Linked DNA regions of Homo sapiens. The protein of the gene in region 1 interacts with the protein of each later gene in a pairwise test. Each region holds a gene or a part of one and is shown on either strand. Other genes may lie near its edges.

Evidence for each region. The genes of interacting proteins can lie anywhere in the genome.
Region 2: the proteins of SYNGR1 (region 1) and TMEM45B interact in binary tests that used the Homo sapiens proteins (3 or more experiments, as listed by UniProt).

The regions. Positions count from the first base shown.
Region 1 is NC_000022.11:39,352,991-39,356,490, reverse strand, and holds part of SYNGR1 (synaptogyrin-1), read right to left. Parts: intron 1-3,500. UniProt on the Homo sapiens protein: May play a role in regulated exocytosis. Modulates the localization of synaptophysin/SYP into synaptic-like microvesicles and may therefore play a role in synaptic-like microvesicle formation and/or maturation.
Region 2 is NC_000011.10:129,818,848-129,822,347, reverse strand, and holds part of TMEM45B (transmembrane protein 45B), read right to left. Parts: intron 1-3,500.

The DNA.
Region 1 (3,500 bases):
CTCCCTGGAGCAGGGGCCATGGGTTCCGATCCCAGTGACTCCAGTTAACCTCTCTGGGCCTCAGCTTTTCATCTAAGGAGGGGATAACAAAACGCACCACAGCAGACTTACGGCAGGCCTTTTAAACTTGCATTCAGGCCAGGCAAGATGGCTCACACCTGTAATCCCAGCACTTTGGGAGGCCGGGGCAGGCGGATCACTTGAGGTCAGGAGTTTGAGACCAGCCTGGCCAACATGATGAAACCCTGTCTCTACTAAAAATATAAAAATTAGCCGGGTGTGGTGGCGGACATCTACTCAGGAGTCTGAGGCAGGAGAATCGCTTGAATTTGGAAGGTGGAGGCTGCAGTGAGCTGAGATCGTGCCACTGCATTCCAACTTGGGTGACAGAGCGAGACCCTGTCTCAAAAACAAACAAACAAAAATAACTTGCATTTTCTTTTCCTTTCTTTCTTTTTCTTTTCTTTTTTTGAAATGGAGTTTCACTCTTTTAGCCCAGGCTGGAGTGCGATGGCGCAATCTCGGCTCACTGCAACCTCCACCTCTCGGGCTTAAGCGATACTCATGCCTCAGCCTCCCAAGTAGCTGGGACTACAGACGCGTGCCACCACGCCTGGCTAATTTTTTGTAATTTTAGTAGAGATAGGGTTTCGCTATGTTGGCCAGGCTGGTCTCGAACTCCTGACCTCAGGTGATCCACCTGCCTCTGCCTCCCAAAGTGTTGGGCTTACAGGCATGAGCCTCCACACCTGGCCAAAATTTGCATTTTTATAAACTCTCGAGGCCTCCCCAAACCCAGGCCCTCCAATCCCATGTTACAGATGAGGCAACCAAGGCTGAAAGAGGTAGGGGTTTTCCAAGGTCCCGCTCTGATGGCCCTGCTCCTGATGCCCTAGGCTTTCTCAGGCTCTTGAGGCCGCCCCTGGGCTGTCCCTGGACATGAGGAAGTGCCCAAAACACAGCAGAAATCTATCACCTCCCAGCGGTCTCCTTGCAGCTGACCCTGTCCTAGACCTGAGAGAGAAGAAGCGGCGGAGCGGCCGGCCACAGGAGGTGAAGAGGTGAGAAAGACTCCAGGGTGGTCAGCAATAAATAACAAACAAGGGCCGTGGGCCCACCTTCCTGTCTAGGTGACAGGGCTGTGCCCGGTACTGGGAGAGGACAGGCTGGACGTGACCACGCATTTCCAGCCACAGAGCCCTCTCCAAACCAAGCTTCCACAGGAGCTTCCGAAATACCCTTGACCCTCTCTCCAGCTTCCCACTGCCCTCAGAGGAAGTCCAGCTTGTGAGTCTGTCATCCAAGCCTCTCCTGGGCCACCCCTTGGGAATTCCTTCTTGTAGTGACCCGAGCCTCTGGGACAGTGCTTCCCACTCAATCCTGTTCTCGTTATTGGAGCGAGAGTGCCTTGGGGTGGCACTGAGCACTCAGCTGGCACTGAGCAGGGGACTTGTGGAATGAACAAATGAACATCAGAACTGGCCAGAGGTTCTGTCTCTACCCTGGACCCTCTTCCCCAACAACCGCTGGTCCCAGAATTTTCCTGTGGCCCCATGGCTGGCACATGGCAAGTTGGTTGGGGGAGGCAAGGGGTCTTATCTTGAAACTGCTGTGTTTACAAAAAACGTTCAGCTTTTTTTTTTTTTTATTTGAGACAGAGTTTTGCTTTTGTTGCCCAGGCTGGAGTGCAGTGGTGTGATCTCAGCTAACTGCAACCTCCGCCTCCCGGGTTCAAGCGATTCTCCTGCCTCAGCCTCCTGAGTAGCTGGGATAACAGGCGACCGCCACCACGCTCAGCTAATTTTTGTATTTTAGTAGAGATGGGGTTTCACCATGTTGGCCAGGATGGTCTCGAACTCCTGACCTCAAGTGATCCACCCGCCTTGGCCTCCCAAAGTGCTGGGATTATAGGCGTGAGCCACCTCACCTGGCCAAGTTCAGCTTTTTTATTCAGTGTTCACTTGGGATGATGGGGGGTGGAGTGGAGGGGGTGAATAAAACCAGGGGTATGAAGCTGCCCCCCTCAGGCCACCCCTTGGTGCCATGGATATCCAGGCAGAGAACCCACAGGGAGTACACAGAATGTGGAGCCCAGCAGTCCGGGTTCAAACCAAGTCTCTGACAAGCCCAGGCCTTGAGCTAGCACAAGTCACTTCTCCAGGCTGAGCCTTAATTCTGTCATTTGTAAAACGGGGGGAAGATACCCACCCCACTTACAGAACCATGTGGTATTATGGCCAAAGCCCTTAAAAAATGAACCCTGAAAATGGCAACATTTCAAACATTTTATCATTTTCATTTTGTCAAAGTAGAGAATTAAAGAAACATTGACTGGGCACGGTGGCTCACACCTGTAATCCCAGCACTTTGGGAGGCTGAGGCGGGTGGATCACTAGGTCAGGAGTTTGAGACCAGCCTGGCCAAGATGGTGAAACCCCGTCTCTACTAAAAATTTAAAAAGTAGCTGGGCATGGTGGTGGGTGCCTGTAATCCCAGCTATTTGGGAGGCTGAGGCAGGAGAATCACTTGAAACCAGGAGGCAGAGGTTGCAGTGAGCCAAGATCGCGCCACTGCACTCTAGCCTGGAGACAGAGCGAGACTCCATCTCAAAAACAAAAAACAAACAAACAAAAAACTCATCTGCCAGCACTGATATTCATTCCCTATAGTCCATCTTAGCCCCCTGCAAAAAAGAATATAAACTCCAAATAAAAGGTGGTCCTTTCTATTAAATCAGTTTAGCTTCTTGCTGTAACTCCTTTTTTTCCCATCTGGCTTTAGAACAAAGAAATGAGTCACTGACAGGCGGCAGTCACCGCGCAACAGATCAGGCACTTCTGACCCAGCCCAGCCCAGTTCGGGTGGGAAGACTGAGGCACAGAGGGTGGGGAGGGGACACTTACTGAAGGTCACAGCTGTGGCCTGGGGGTGCCAGGAGTGGCAGCTGATCTGCCACTGGGGCGATGACACCAAGAGGTGAGAAAGCCTTAGTCAAGAGACAAGCCATGCCGGATGCAGTGGCCCACGCCTCGCCTCATCGTCCCAGCTGCTCACAAGGCTGAGGTGGGAGGATCACTTGAGTCCAGGAGTCTGAGACCAGCCTGGGCAACACAGCAAGATCCTGTCTCTAAAAAAATAAAAAAGAGACAAGCCAGGTCTTGGAGGCCCTGCTTCTGTGCAGGCTGACCCAGGGGCTCAGAGGGCTTGGGTTCCAGGGTGGGTCCAGGTTGGTGAGGCCCTGAAGCTTACATGATTTGGGGGCCCTCTTTTGGAAAAGCAACAGAAAAAAAAATCTTTCTTTTACAAATTTTACAAAAATCCCAGGTCCAGGCCGGGTGCGGTGGCTCACGCCTGTAATCCCAGCACGTTGGGAGGCCAAGGCAGGTGGATCACCTGAGGTCAGGAGTTCGAGACCAGCCTGGCTAACATGGTGAAACCCCATCTCTACTAAAAATACAAAAATTAGCTGGGCGTGGTGGTGTGTGCCTGTAGTCCCAGCT
Region 2 (3,500 bases), on another chromosome or scaffold:
AAGCAACATTAAACGTCACTTTAAAAATAGACACAGACATTGTAGGTAGCTGAAGAAAACTTCTAAAATGTAGAAAAAGTACTGAGTTAATATGCTTGGAGAAAGAAGAGAAGATGCTGCGTTCATGAAATGAGAACAGGATACTGTAAAAACCATTCAGAAGACCACACCTCTCGCCAATAAAAGCTCCTGAGAATTAAAAATATAATGGTAGAATGTAAACATTTAATAGCATTGTTGGAAGATTTATTAGAACTAAAAAAACATGGGATATTTTTTAAAATAAAAAAGATAAAATTACAAGACAGATCCAAGAGATCCCATTTTCAGATTCAGTCTAAGTAATTTAAGTTTCAGAAAGAAAGAACGAGGAAATTATATAACAGAAGAAAACCACTCAGAACTGAAGAATGTACTTTTTGGATTGAAAAGGCCTAGAAAATACTTAGGACAGTGACGGATACCTCCCTGTATTCCCCCCACCCCGCCAAAAAACCCACCCCAACATTAAATAACAACATCATGAAATATCAGAATATGAACAATAAAGAAAACCCTACAAATGCCCAGAGATTAGAACAAAATACAAGGGATCAGGAATTAGAATGGCATCAGCCTCTCAACAGCACCGTAAGAAAGTAGAATAAAATAGAGCAATGTTTTCAAAATTCGTACGGGAAATGATTTCTGATTAATATCCCATACCCAGCCAAACCAGCAAGCAAGTGTGAAGGAAGAAAAGTGACATCTCAAATGGGCACAAGCTCAAAAAGCAACCGCATCTTATGGGGCCTGAATCTTATACACTTTTGGGAGCCTTCTTTAAGAAAAAGGCGTAAAATTACAAAAACTGTACATAATTGGGTATGAAAGTACATATGTATTCCACAAGAGATGGCCTAGACAGAAAAAAAAAGTGTGTGTGTATTTAGAATGAGAAAATAAATCACAACAGACAGGGACCGTGGAGGTTCTAGACTCTGTCTTTTCAGATGTGCTTGGAAAATTTACCCCAAATGCTTCTTGATGGCGGCCTGGCGTTTCCTCCCCACTCAACAGCTCCATGCAATTAGCAGCACTCAGAGGGCCCCCATGAGTTTCCTTGGCTCCAGGAAATGACTTCTTGGTGATGAGTTCTCAAACAACTAAAGAAAATGTAGCAACTCCTACACCCCATTCCAGGGGGTTGGGGGAAAGACTGGTCAAGAAGGGAAATGTAAAGATCATGGTGTATCATGTGCCTTAGTTGGGAATAATATATACACCAAACATTGACATATCAAAAATTTAGGATATAACCGTACTGGGAACTTAAAAGAAAGGGATGTGAAGGTGAGAGGGAGGGTGGGGGTGTAAAGGAGCGAAACCCTCATCCTTCTTGGTAGGATGTCAATAGATGTCATCCAGAACTGGAAAAGAGAAGAAGAAATGGCCCGTATCTGCATGCTATTTAGAATATGGTAATATCAGAAAAACACAACCCAAAGCATTGAAAGTAATTGCCGCTAGGGTTCTATACTCAGTATAAACTCAATGAAAACCTTCTACAATGAACGACTTCTAAGACTATACATTGATTTATGTTGACCAAAGCAGATAATTAAAAAATAAAGTATACCCTCAAGAGGAGTGAGGCAAAAAGCTAACAGAAATAAAATAAAGTCGCTTTTGCTAAACTACCTGACATTCGGTGTTTCTCAAAATGTATTCCCGCAACCACCTGCCCTCAGATGACCTGGCGTGCCCGTCCATAATGGAGAATTATAGACCCAGCCCAGACCTACATAATCAGCAGTTCTCAGAGTGGTCCTTGCACTCTACCATTTAAAAAAGTTCCCCTGGACCCACTGCATTACCCATTGCTTTTTAGTAAAACAAACAAAAAACCAAAACAAATAACAACCTATTTAGAGACAGGATCTATGACTCATAAAACACACTATGGCAGATGCTGCTAGCTGCCTACCCAATGTTCATTCTCCCCCCGCCTTATTAACAAAATTCCTATTTTGTTGTTATTATTATTTTTTTGAGATGGAGTTTCGCTCTTGTTGTCCAGGCTGGAGTGCAAGTGGCATGATCTCGGCTCACTGCAACCTCTGCCTCCTGGGTTCAAGCGATTCTCCTGCCTCAGCCTCCTGAGTAGCTGGGACTATAGGCGCCTGCTAGCACGCCCGGCTGATTTTTTGTGTTTTTAGTAGAGATGGGGTTTCACCATGTTGGCCAGGCTGGTCTTGAACTCCTGACCTCAGGTGATCCACCCGCCTTGACCTCCCAAAATGCTGGAATTACAGGCGTGAGCCACTGTGTCTGGCCCAAAATTCTTATTTTGATGTATTGGCAACGTGTCTGTCTCAAACACTAGATTCTCTCTGGTTCCGTCACCGTTAACAGTGTGTATGTGATATGGTTCTGGCCAATGACATGTAAGAAGTCTTTTGGGGTGGGCTACCAGAAAAGCTGTTATTATTATTATTTATTATAAAGAAGGACAGGCCAGGCGTGGTGGCTCACATCTGTAATCCCAGCACTTTGGGAGGCCGAGGGGGGCAGATCACAGGGTCAGGAGTTCAAGACCAGCCTGACCAACATGGTGAAACCCCGTCTCTACTAAAAATACAAAAATTAGCTGGGCGTGGTGGTGCACGTCTGTAATCCCAGCTACTTGGAGGCTGAGGCAGGAGAATCACTTGAACCCAGGAAGCGGAGGTTGCAGTGAGCCGAGATTGTGCCACTGAGAGAGACTCTGAGTCAAAAGAAAGAAAGAGATGAGACAGAGAGAGAGAGAGAGAAAAGAAAAGAAGAGAGAAAAGAAAAGAAAAGAAAAGACAAGACAAGACTCTTCTGGAGCATGCCTCTGCCCGTCTTTCTGCTGCAACTTGCGGAAGTGAGTATGAAAGCTCCATGCTAAGGAGGGTGGTGCGGGAAGACACAAGGAGCCTGTCTCAGATGACGTTCATATCGGAACCCCTTTCCCAGCCCCAGCCTTCTCACCTCCAGACTTCTCGTTCTCTGAGAAAAACAAACTCCTTACTTGTTTAAGCCGCTGTAGTAGGGTTTTCTGTTCTTGTAGCTGAATGAACGTCTAATGACATCTCACACTTTTTCAGATGTTTATCTGACATACCACATTTTATGTATGCCTGCTATGGGCACTGTGCTAGGAATAAGACAAGTAAAGCTCTCTTTGTCATGGAACCAGGAGCACAGTTAGAACAGAAGTTAGAACTTTAGCCACTATAATAACGGCTACAGTTATAATAACAGTTAGAACAGAAGGTCCATAGGCATTTGAGGCTGGGATTCAAGGAGGTTATGTTTGCTGTCACAGACCTCAAACCAAAAGAGTACATCAAAATAAGTCACTGGATTTATACATTTGGCAAATTCTCAAGGGACCACATGACAGAAGGAGCAAAAATCTGAACATTGTTTTTAGCTGTAATTCTCCAATGAAGTAGATTTGGGGAAGCAACATGAGGTACTTGCTTTATTTTTCT